Regions from separate parts of the Homo sapiens genome. Here region 1 is linked to region 2. A link means that fine-mapping ties the variant in region 2 to the expression of a gene that starts in the linked region. Tissue or cell type: whole blood. Region 2 holds a variant in brackets; the other region holds the start of a gene. All regions are shown on one strand. Distances are from middle to middle.

What was found. PIP is the estimated chance that this variant, and not a neighbour inherited with it, causes the effect.
Region 1: it holds the start of CLK4, and the variant in region 2 is fine-mapped to the expression of CLK4 in whole blood (TOPMed, PIP 0.99).

Annotation. Positions count from the first base shown.
Region 1 is chr5:178,624,384-178,630,136 of GRCh38, forward strand. It overlaps CLK4 (CDC like kinase 4), which reads right to left and starts at 2,667. Exons shown (of 13, transcript NM_020666.3): 1 at 2,563-2,667. RefSeq lists enhancers at 1,613-2,293, 2,026-2,635, 5,703-5,753.
Region 2 is chr5:178,686,443-178,692,195 of GRCh38, forward strand. It overlaps a transcript of MSANTD5 not described here. Among named protein-coding and RNA genes, the nearest start is that of MSANTD5, 8.4 kb to the right of the region's middle. The variant T/C (reference allele first, on the strand shown) is at 2,900.

The DNA of each region.
Region 1 (5,753 bases), 62 kb before region 2:
ATTCTTAACCTTAAAATCTATTTGTAGTAAATCTGGAGTAACTCTGAAAAAGAACTCAACCTACAAGGATGCACACTGAAGCATGGTCACAGTGAAAGCAAACGATAACGGTGACAGCTGACTTTATTTACAAACTCCAGTGCATAACCTGGGTTCCTTCCAGGCTCAGCATCTGCGCTCAAACAATATAACCCCTATCTGTCTCTCCCCATCTTAATTATTTTCCAAAACAGTTAAGTTTTAACAGTCAGGTCCAAATTCTCCTAAACAGGGTGAGTTTAAATGGTAAAAAGAGAAGAATTTCACAATTCAGCAAGGAGCTGAAAAAAGCTAAAATGGAGTAAAACCCACTCAGTTAACCTCATTCAGCTTGCCCAAATGACTAATAAGCAAACAAATGCAAGCAGAAATTTAAATGATTTTAAATGGATTAAAGGTTTTGGAGTGAGGCAGCTTCAATTCTTCTGGGAGGTATTCCACAAGAAAGTATGTGTCACGCCATCAGAGTCTGATTGCCACCAGATAGTCAGATATTTTAATTCACTCTCTTGCTGATTCTAATTCTATACCCATCAAGCATCCTTCTAAGGTGGCTCTCAGCTCACTTTACAGAGGAAGAGAAGGCACTGATCAGGCCAAACAGCAATTCTAAAACTCTTGTTAGCGTCTCAATGGAAGTGAGCATTCCGGTTTGATACAAATGGAGTCACTTCCATATGGGAACGTGACATGAATAACAGCACACATTTACTTGAGGCAAAAGGCCAAAACACAAACTTTCTTCATTAGAGCTATCAAGAAAAATTTATGGCTGGACGCAGTGGCGCCTCATCCCTTGAGCCCAGGAATTCGAGACTGGCCTGGGCAACACGGCGAAACCCTGCCTTTACAAAAAATACAAAAAATTAGCCGCACATGGTGACTCGAGCCTGTAGTCCCACCTACTGGGACAATCACTGGAGCCCAAGGAAGTCAAGGCTGCAGTGAGCCATGATCACGCCATTGCATACCAGTATGGGCGACAGTGAGACCCTGTCTCAAAAAAAAAAAAAAAAAAAAAAAGAAAATGTGTATTTCAAGTGCAGTTCTTCTGAAGCGTTCCGTCAAATACCAAAGTTGTATTTTAACCACATCAGGAACTCAGCTTGGTTAAGCATTTTTAAATCATAGCAAGCAAAATCACATCTGATGACCGAGCGTTATTATTATGACCCTCCATTACTATGAAGTTTTTTTCAAGACTTATGTATCTTCTTCAGTTTTGTTTTTTCCTCTTCTACTGTAAGTCTGCTTACAACCAGCTAACCTCCAGCAAAACAGAACTCTCAAATTATCAGTTAATATGCAAACATTAAAATAAGAACGAGCTCCGTTGTGAGAGTCCAAAATTCTTCTCAAGTTCACTACTTCAAATGTAATTCAGCTGTTAGTCCCAGCCTCTGACCTCCCCCACTCACCCTGCAATGTTCAAAAATATTTTATCTGGAGGCACAAAGATCACCCGACCCACGTTCTACGTGGTAAGGTTCCTTCGCATACATAAAAAAGAAAAGCTATCTAGAATCATGACACTGCCTCTAATAAAGCATCCCACATGCTAGAGTAGGTATCTTTCAAAAAATAATGACACAATGGATCTCATATGTAGATCCATCGCCACTGCCCTTAAGATCCTGTAGTTCTTGACAACTTTACGCTACGTACATGGCTTAAAAACATCGAAACAGGTTATAAGTTTAGGATTGGATGGCTCCAAGAGGACTGCATTTAATGGGTTACAAGCCTGTAGGGGTGTGTAAAAAGCACAATCGCACAGGACAGCTATGAGGCAAGACAAAGTGGCTGGCGAGTTCAGTTTGCGGGGCGGTTTCCTAAGGATCGGATAAGCCTATCTGGACTATTTAGGCAACCAGGGATAATAAGATGCAAAACCACCAGAAACGCAGGTTCGCTGCAACAATGTTGTGTTCAGCATAGCACAGAGGACTAGCCTCCGCAAATTTCCACCTCTCACAAGCAGCTACTGCCCTCAACCACCTGGATTTGCACGGACGCCCGGTCCCCACCTCCCGGCTCCTGGGCACCCGGCCAGTGCCTTTGGCGCACTCAAGACAGGGGCAAATGCTTGACTCTGGAAAACCCCCGAAACGCTACAAACGGCCCAGGCCAGGAATCCAGGGGAAGACTTGATCTCCGACAACACGAATGCCAGAGACGGCTCTCGAAGGGTCTCCCGACAGGTCCTAGCGCCCGCCGGCTGGAAGAGGTCCCGACAGGGTTAACCAACAGCCGCGCTCGCCAGGCAGCAGGGGACCGCGAGCCCACGGCCTCCGGAGCCGCGACGCGAGCGGCCAGGGCCCTCAGAGAAGGGTCAGCGGCAGAACCGCGACGCCCGAGCAACTTTCGGTGCTGCCGGCGTGCACCAGCCGAGCAGCGCCTCGCAGAACTCCCAACTCAGCTCCAGAAGCCCAGGCCCCTAACGCGGTCGTTTCTCCGACACCTGGCTCGGAGACCTAAAGACCGACAGCCGCCTGTCCCAGCACACACCATCTGCAACCCTACCTCCGCAAAAGCAAATGGCCCTTCGGCCGAGAAATGTCGCCAAACTGCCGTCTTCCCTCCTCGGCCGCTGCGACAAACACCCCACAAAATGGCGGCAGCGCCGTCGCCCTAGAATCCCCCGAGTCGCCTCTAGCACCACCTACGCCGCGCGAACGCGCCTGCGTGACAGAACCTTGCGCGCTCCCGCCGCTCCACCTAAGGGCGGGGCTCCACGTGACGTAAGAGCGGGGCTCGAGCCTCCACACTGCGGCTGCGCGGCCCAAGCATTTCCACCCCCCCCCCCCCGCCCACCCGGTCCCGGGGCCTCTAGGCCGGGAGGGTGTTTACGTTCTCTACGGGCTCGGGTGGAACCGGGAAGGAACGCCCGTGTCCCGCCCTCAGTGTGTACCGCGTGTCTGCCCCCTCCCCCGGGACCTCAACTCCCGCAGCCGGCACCCGACAACGGCCCCAAAACCGCCTAGGGCGGGCCTTGGCTGGTCCCTGGGCTGTTCCCTGGACTGGGTGCTTGTCCTGCCCACTTGGCGCTTCCAGTCTAAGGTGGATTCGGACAAAGAGGCTGTCTCAGAAAACAAGCTCAAGGGGTGCTAATCTTTTCAAGGCACGTGCTCCTATTCAGAACAAAACAAAAACCCGGAGGTTTCAATGGAGACTCCTGACAAGGTTTTCCTGTTAGGATCCCTACCTCCTGAGCAGTTAAGGTCGCTGGAAGTTTCCCTAACGAAGTTTTCCCCATTTTTTTTTGTCCCTGCGGGCTGATTTTATTCAAGGCTGAAAAATGTCTCTGAGCTAGTGATAGTCCGTTATGGGGCTTGCTTACCTCAAATAAGGTATTCTGCAGTTCTGAGGACCCTCAGGCAGTTCCCCCGTGTAAGTATGTAACATGAGAAATATTAGGGTCAAAGTCGGAGCCCTGTGGGGAACACTCAAGGGCCAGAGGGAAAGGGGCCTGAGAAGGAATGATCAGCAGAGGAGGAGAACCAAGAATAGGGTGTCAAAGCAAGGAAGGGCGTAAGTGAGGGAAAGGGTTTAGGTGAGACTGAAGATCGTGGGGGGGGACGGCGGGCGGGGTGGGGGTTGGCTTCTGTATTCTGACGGGGATTCGCTGGATAAAAGGGAAAGCTAGAAATCAAATTTGGGAGGGTAGGGTTGAACTCTTGCGGGTATTAGCCCAGTAGCATGTGGGAGACCTGTTATCCTGTTAGGTGAAAGGAGGGAACGGAAATACCTTTAGTGATCTAACATGATAGAAACTTGTGCCATCTGGTTTGGGTAAGTAGGGTAAATTTAGATAAATCTCGGAGATTGTACAGCATTTCAAAAAGTAAGTTGAATTTTCATGGAGATTGCACTCCAAGAAGCGAAGTTGAAAAGAAACTTGGAAAACTGGAAGGGTAAACTCTTTATGCTACAGAATGAAACAAATGATATTATTTTCATCTAGAATAGCCACCATTTTTGCATCTACAAATTTAAATCTTACTCATCCTTGAAAGGCCATTTCTTTAAGATGCTGTCTCTGACATGAGTTCCCACCCATTTCCCGGCTCCTGACTACTCCAGTTAGATGTGAAGTCCTCAAATAGTGGAGTATTTGGAGCCACCTGGTATGCTAACAGATTTTGCCCAAAGAGTGAAATGTATTGGTTCTACAATTGATTACACATCCCGTCTCAAGGGAATCTATTAGATAGAATGTTGAGCTGACTGGTCTGGGCGATAATACAAGGTAGAGTGGGGCTCAAATTGCAGCATATGAGAATGTAAATTCAAGCTGGCACCAAAGAATGTTCTCCTGTTTCATGGAGTAGGAGAGATCCTGCCTCCTGGGGTTATAAGAAAGTGTGGTCAGGACAGCCCACAATTCTGCTCAAAAAAGCAACACTATGTTAAAAAGCAGCCACTTGAAATGCCACCTACAGAGGCCTTTATATTATAGACGTCACACACACTGTTACCCAATAGTAGAGTCTGCTTTGTAATTACATTCATCTCGCTTTAGTGTTTTAATTTGTATGCCACCAAAAGGTCTAATGTTTAAAAGTGTGTAGTGATCAGAAGGAAGCTGAGAATGACTAGCACCTCTATGCTATGTGATGCAGCACTATGGTGCCCCTAGTCACTCTCTGTGGCTTTGTGCTGAGTTTGGAGACAAGGACCTGATTTATATTGTCTTTGGTATCTCAGGCCTAGAACCCAGTAAATATTTGTAGGTTGTTTACATAAGCTGCTTTGGGCCATTTTGCTCAGTTGGTTTAAGGTCAAAGTGAGTAAGTTAAAGGTAGACATTTCATCCCAGCATCACTGCACCAGTTAGCTTACCACCCTTTCGTGGCAGCCTCAACCCTTCCTATTAAGTCAGTTACCTGGCAAGACTTAATGAAAAGGTTTATCTAAATTTCTGAGAATCTACTACCAATACCAGAAACACTGCCTAATCCAGTGGTTTCATCTCTACACAAGAACAGTATGTCCAAAAAAACCTTTGAGTTAACTGATGTGTCCAAGCAGCTAGTCAAAGGCTGGGCACAGTGGCTCACGCCTGTAATCTCAGGTTGCAGGCAGAGGTGGGTGGATCACTTGAGCCTGGGATTTCAAGACTAGCCTGGCCAACATGGTGAAATCCCATCTCTACAAAAAATACAGAAAAAAAATTGGCTGGACATGGTGGTGCATGGCTGTGGTCCCAGCTACTCGGGAGGCTGAGGTGGGAGGATGGTTTGAGCCCAGGAGGCAGAGGTTGCAGTGAGCCAAGATCGTGCAACTGCACTCCAGCCTGGGTGACAGAGCCAAACCCTGTCTCAAAAGCAAAAACAAAAAGAACTAGTTTAAGAATTTTTTTGGCTGGGCACGGTGGCTCACGCCTGTAATCCCAGCACTTTGGGAGACCGAGGCAGGCGGATCATGAGGTCAGGAGTTCGAGACCAGCCTGGCCAATATGGTGAAACCCCGTCTCTACTAAAAATACAAAAATTAGCTGGGCATGGTGGCGGGTGCCTGTACCCCCAGCTACTTAGGAGGCTGAGGCAGAAGAATCGCTTGAACCCAGGAGGCGGGGCTGCAGTGAGCTGAGATCGTGCCGCTGCACTCCAGCCTGGGTAACAGTAAGACTCTGTCTCAAAAAAAAAAAAAAAAGAAATTTTTAGCTTTGAAGAGCAACCAAAGGAATATTCTTATCACATATTCTAGGATAT
Region 2 (5,753 bases):
ACCCCGTCTCTACTGAAAATACAAAATTAGCCGGGCATGGTGGTGCATGCCTGTAATCCCAGCTACTCCGGAGGCTGAGGCAGGAGAATCGCTTGAACCTGGGAGGCGGAGGGAGGTTGCAGTGAGCTGAGATCACGCCACTGCACTACAGTCTGGGCTCGAAACTCCATCTCAAAAAAAAAAAAAAAAGAAGCCCCATCAACGTCTTGGCTGCCTTAAGAGCTCCTTAATTCCTTCAAAAATATATGTTTTCTGTTTTGACTGACTTTTCTACGTTTCTTTAGCAAGATAATTGGTCTGAAATCAGCTATTTGACAATTTCTAGGATAATTTTTAAAATTTTTCATTTTCTGGGCCAGGCGCAGTGGCTCATGCCTGTAATCCCAGCACTTTGGGAGGCCGAGGCAGGCAGATCACGAGGTCAGGAGATCGAGACCATCCTGGCGAACACGGTGAAACCCCGTCTCTACTAAAAATACAAAAAAATTAGCCGGGCGTGGTGGCGGGCGCCTGTAGTCCCAGCTACTCGGGAGGCTGAGGCAGGAGCATGGCGTGAACCCAGGAGGAGGAGCTTGCAGTGAGCCGAGATCGCCCCACTGCACTCCAGCCTGGGTGATAGAGCAAGACTCTGTGCAAAAAAAAATTTCTTTTTCTTTTTTTTCCTCTCATGAACTCTGCTACAAGAGAAGGTTTTGAGTATATTTGATTTCCCTCAACATTTTTTTTTTTTTTTTTGAGACAAGCTCTCACTCTCTGTCACCCAGGCTGGAGTGCAGTGGCCTGATCTCAGCTCACTGCAACCTCCGCCTCCCGGTTTCAAGCGATTCTCCCGCCTCTGCCTCCAGAGTAACTGGGATTACAGGTGCCCGCCACCACGCCTGGCTAAATTTTTTTATTTTTTAGAAGAGACGGGGTTTCACCATGTTGCCCAGGCTGGTCTTGAATTCCTGAGCTCAAGTTAATCCTCCTGCCTCGCCCTTCCAAAGTGCTTGGATTACAGGTATGAGCCACCGCACCTGGCCGGATTTCCCTCTACTTTGATAGAAATATATGATTATGGACGGGCACGGTGGCTCACACCTGTAATCCCAGCACTTTGGGAGGCCAAGGCGGGCAGATCATGAGGTCAGGAGATAGAGACCATCCTGGCTAACATGGTGAAGCCCCGTCTCTACTAAAAATACAAAAAATTAGCCGGGCATGGTGGCAGGCGCCTGTAGTCCCAGCTACTCGGGAGACTGAGGCAGGAGAATGGCGTGAACGTGGGAGGAGCTTGCAGTGAGCTGAGATCGCGCCACTGCACTCCAGCCTGGGTGACAGAGCGAGACTTTGTCTCAAAAAAAAAGAAAAGAAAGAAATATATGATCATATAAAAACAAAATGAAAAACTAAAGAGTATTATTTCTAGTAAAATAAAAACTGTTAAAATTTGGGTCTATTTTCAGTTTGATACTATTTTCTGTTTATGTAACTTAAATCACTTTAGTTTTCAGAAAATATATCCAGAAAAAAATTATTTTCTTCAATTTATTGAGGCATAATTGACAGAAAATTGTATCTATTTAAGGTGTACAACTGATGATTTCACATATGTTAACACTTTAAAATGATTACCCTGGCCAGCCCTGGTGGCTCACACCTGTAATCCCGGCACTTTGGGAGGCCACAGCGGGAGGATTACTTGAGGCCAGGAGTTTGAGATCAGCCTGGGCAACACAGCGAAACCCCATCTCTCCAAAAAAATACAAAAAATTAGCCAGGTGTGGTGGCATGTGCCTTTAATCCCAGCTACTACTCAGGAAGCTGAGATGGGAGAATTGCTTGAACCTGGGAGGCAGAAGTTGCAGTTAGCTGAGATGGTGCCACTGCACTCCAGCGTGGGTGACAAAATGAGACTCTAAGTAAATAAATAATAAAATAAAGTTATTACCATGATAAAGTTAATTAGCATGCTGCATTAGTCTGTTTCGCATGGCTGTAAAGGAATACCTGAGGATGGGTAATTTATACAGAAAACAGGTTATTTGGCCCACAGTTCTGCAGCCTGCACTAACACGGCACCAGTAACTGCTGGGAGTCCGGGGAGGCCTCAGGAAGGCTTTACTGTTGGTGGAAGGCAAAAAGGGAGCAGGCATGTCACATGGCAAGAGAGGAGGCAAGAGAGAGATGCCAGGCCCTTTTAAACAATCAGATCTCTTGGTAACTAATAGAGTAAGAACTCACTCATGACCTCAAGGACAGCACCAAGCCATTAATGAGGGATCCACGCCCATGACCCAAACACCTACTAGCCCTTACCTTCAACACTGGGGATTGCATTTCACATTATGAGATTTGGAGGCAAATATCCAAACCACAGCACTTACCCAATACTTCCCACACTTACCCCCTCCCTTTTTCGGTGAGAACACTTCAGATCTACTCTCTTAGCAAGCTTCAGTATAAAATATAGTATTATTAACTATGCTCACCGTGCTGTACATTAGATCTTTAGAATTCCTTCATCTTATAACTGAAAGTTTGTACACTTTGATCAAGATCTCTCCATTTCCTCCCCCACCTCCCTTCCCGGCAACCACCAGGTTGCTCTGCTCTCTGCTTCTATGAGTTGGAAATGTTTCTTCTTTTTAGATTCCATATATAAGTGATACCATACAGTATTTGTCTGTCTCTGTCACACTTCACTGAGTATAGTGCCCTCTAGGTTCATTTATGTTGTTGATAGGCAGGACTTCTTTTTTAAAGTGGCTGAATAATATTCCGCTGTGTGTGTATGTGTGTCAAGTTTTCTTTTTATCCATTCACCTGTCAGTGGACACTTAGATTGTTTCCGTATCTTTGCTACTGTGAATAGTGCTGCAATGAACGTGAGATGCAGATCTCTCTTCCAGATCCTGGA[T/C]ACATACCCAGAAGTGGCACTGTTGAATTATGTGGTAGTTCTATTTTTAATTTTTTTGAGTAAACTCCATACTGTTTTCCAGTGAAATAAGACAGTCAAAGAGGTTTTTCCATATCTTGGTACCAGGAGCTTTAACTCAGGTCCAACTCACCGTGGGCCCAGCGGGTCCCGGAACCCATTCTCTGGTCATTTCCCGGGTCCAGATGTGTAGTTGGAACAGACGTGTTCAGCAGCTAGCAGAGTTTCCACACGGGTTCCCTGAGCTATAAAGTGAGGGCAATTGTGATGGGAAAGGACAAATGGAAGGCGTTACAGCCATCTCTACCTAGAAAAATACTAAAACAAAAAACACACCAATACTGCCTTCCTGGAGGAATGATATAGATGAGTGCCATCATCAAAGACTTGAAGTATGGAGGGGTGGTGATTCCTACCCCACATCCTTGTCCAACTCTCCTGGCCTGTGCAGAAGACAGATGAATCCTGGAGAATGATGGTGGATTCCCAGAAGCTTAACCAAGTGATAACTCTAATTGCAGTTGCTGTACCAGATGCTGTTTCATTGCTTGAGCAAATTAACACATATCCTGGTACATGGTATGTAACTATTGATCTGACACACACCTTTTTCTCCATCCCTGTCCAGAAGGCCCACCTGAAGCAGTTTGCCTTCAGCTGGCCAGGGACACCTTCACTGTCCTCCCTCAGTTTAGATCAACTCTCCAGCCCCATGTCACAGTGTGAACCCAGGAGGCAGAGCTTGCAGTGAGCCGAGATCGCGCCACTGCACTCCAGCCTGGGTGACAGAGCGAGACTGCGTCTCAAAAAAAGGTATCGATTTTAAAACTTGATTTTTTATATATGTATATATTGTGCAATGAGCACCATAGTCAAGTCAGTTAACATATTTATCGCCTCACATAGTTAACCTTTGTGTGTGTGTGTAAGATGAGAACACTTAAGATCTACCCTCTAAACAAATTTCAGGTATAAAATACAATAGTGTTAACTATAGTCACCATGCTGTACATTCCATCTCCAGAACTTACTCATCTTGAGTAACCGGAAATTTACACTCATGACCAGCATCCCCCCATCCCCCCACTTCTCCCTCCCTCCAGCCCTGGAAACCACCATTCTACTCTCTTCTATGAGTCTGACTATTTTAGATTCCACATATAAGTGAGAGCATGCAGTATTTATCTTCCTGTGGCTAGCTTATTTCACTTGCAAATGGACTTTATGAAGCTAGTATTATCCTGATACCAAAACCAGAAAAAGACAGTACAACAAAACTGTAAAACAGCATCTTTCTTGAATACTGATGCAGAAATCATTAATAAAACATTACTAATACATCAATAATAGATGAAAAAATTATATGATGGACAATTGATGTACTCCAGAGATATGAGGCTGGTTCAATGTTTGAAAAATCAATCAAAGAACAAAGTAGGAAGAATTAATTTATATGATTTAATAACTTATACAGCTATAGTAAACAAGGGTGTGTGATATTAGCAGAGTGCAGACCAATGGAACAAGGTAGAGAACCCATGACAAGAACCACACAAATATGCCCACCTAATTTGTCACAAAAATGCAAAAGAAATTCAACGCAGAAAAGATAGCCTCTTCAGAGAAGAGCAACTGGACATTCACAGGCACATACACACAAAATGAACCTTAACCTAAACTTCACAAACCTTAATCACAATTTAACTCAAATGTACCAGGGACTTAAATGCAAAATGTAAAACTATAAAACTTTAAGAAAAATATAGGAAAAAGTCAGCCGGGCACAGTGGCTCAAGCCTGTAATCCCAGCACTTTGGGAGGCCGAGGCAGGTGGATCACGAGGTCAGGAGGTCAAGACCATCCAGGCTAACACGGCGAAACCCCGTCTCTACTAAAAATACAAAAAATTAGCCAGGCGTGGTGGCGGGCGCCTGTAGTCCCAGCTACTCGGGAGGCTGAGGCAGGAGAATGGCGTGAACCCAGGAGGCGGAGCTTGCAGTGAGCCAAGATCATGCCACTGCACCACTCCAGCCTGGGAGACAGAGCAAGACTCCATCTCAAAAAAAAAAAAAAAAAAGAAAGAAAAGAAAAAGAAAAAGAAAAATATAGGAAAAAGTCTTCAGGATCTAGGACTAACCAAAGGGTTCTTAGATTTGACACCCAAAGCACTACCCATTAAAATGTTGGTAAATTGTACCTCACAAAGTCTTTTCTCTGTGAAAGCCCATAAGAAGGGCATGAAAAGACAAGCTACAAACAGGGAGAAAGTATCTGCAACACCCATATCCCATAAAACGAATATCTAGAATATATTTTAAAAAACTCTCAAATAATAACAGTAAAAACAAAAATCCAATTAGAAAATGGCCAAAACCATGAAGAGCCATGTCACTGCAGAGGATATGCAGATGGCAAATAGGCATACAACATGCTCCGTATCATCAGCCGCCAGGGAACTGAAAATGGAAGCCATAAGTAGATATCACCGCTTTGTCATGCTGTGCAGAGGGGCCCTGGGCAGAGGCCAGTCCCATCATTCTAAGCTCTGCTAAGGCCCTCTGCGATGGACACTCTGAAGGCCATTCTATTCGCCTTTTAATGAATAGTGACAAAACAAAATGCTGGTGAGGATATGGAGAAACTGGTTCACTCATACATTGCTGGTGGGGATGTAGAATGACACGGCCATCTGGTAAAGAGTTTGGCAGTTTCTAAAAAAAAAAAAAAAAAAAAAATTAGGCCAGGCGCTGTGGCTCATGCCTGTAATCCCAGCACTTTGGGAGGCCGAGGTGGGTGGACCACCTGAGCTCAAGAGTTCGAGACAAGCCTGGCCAAT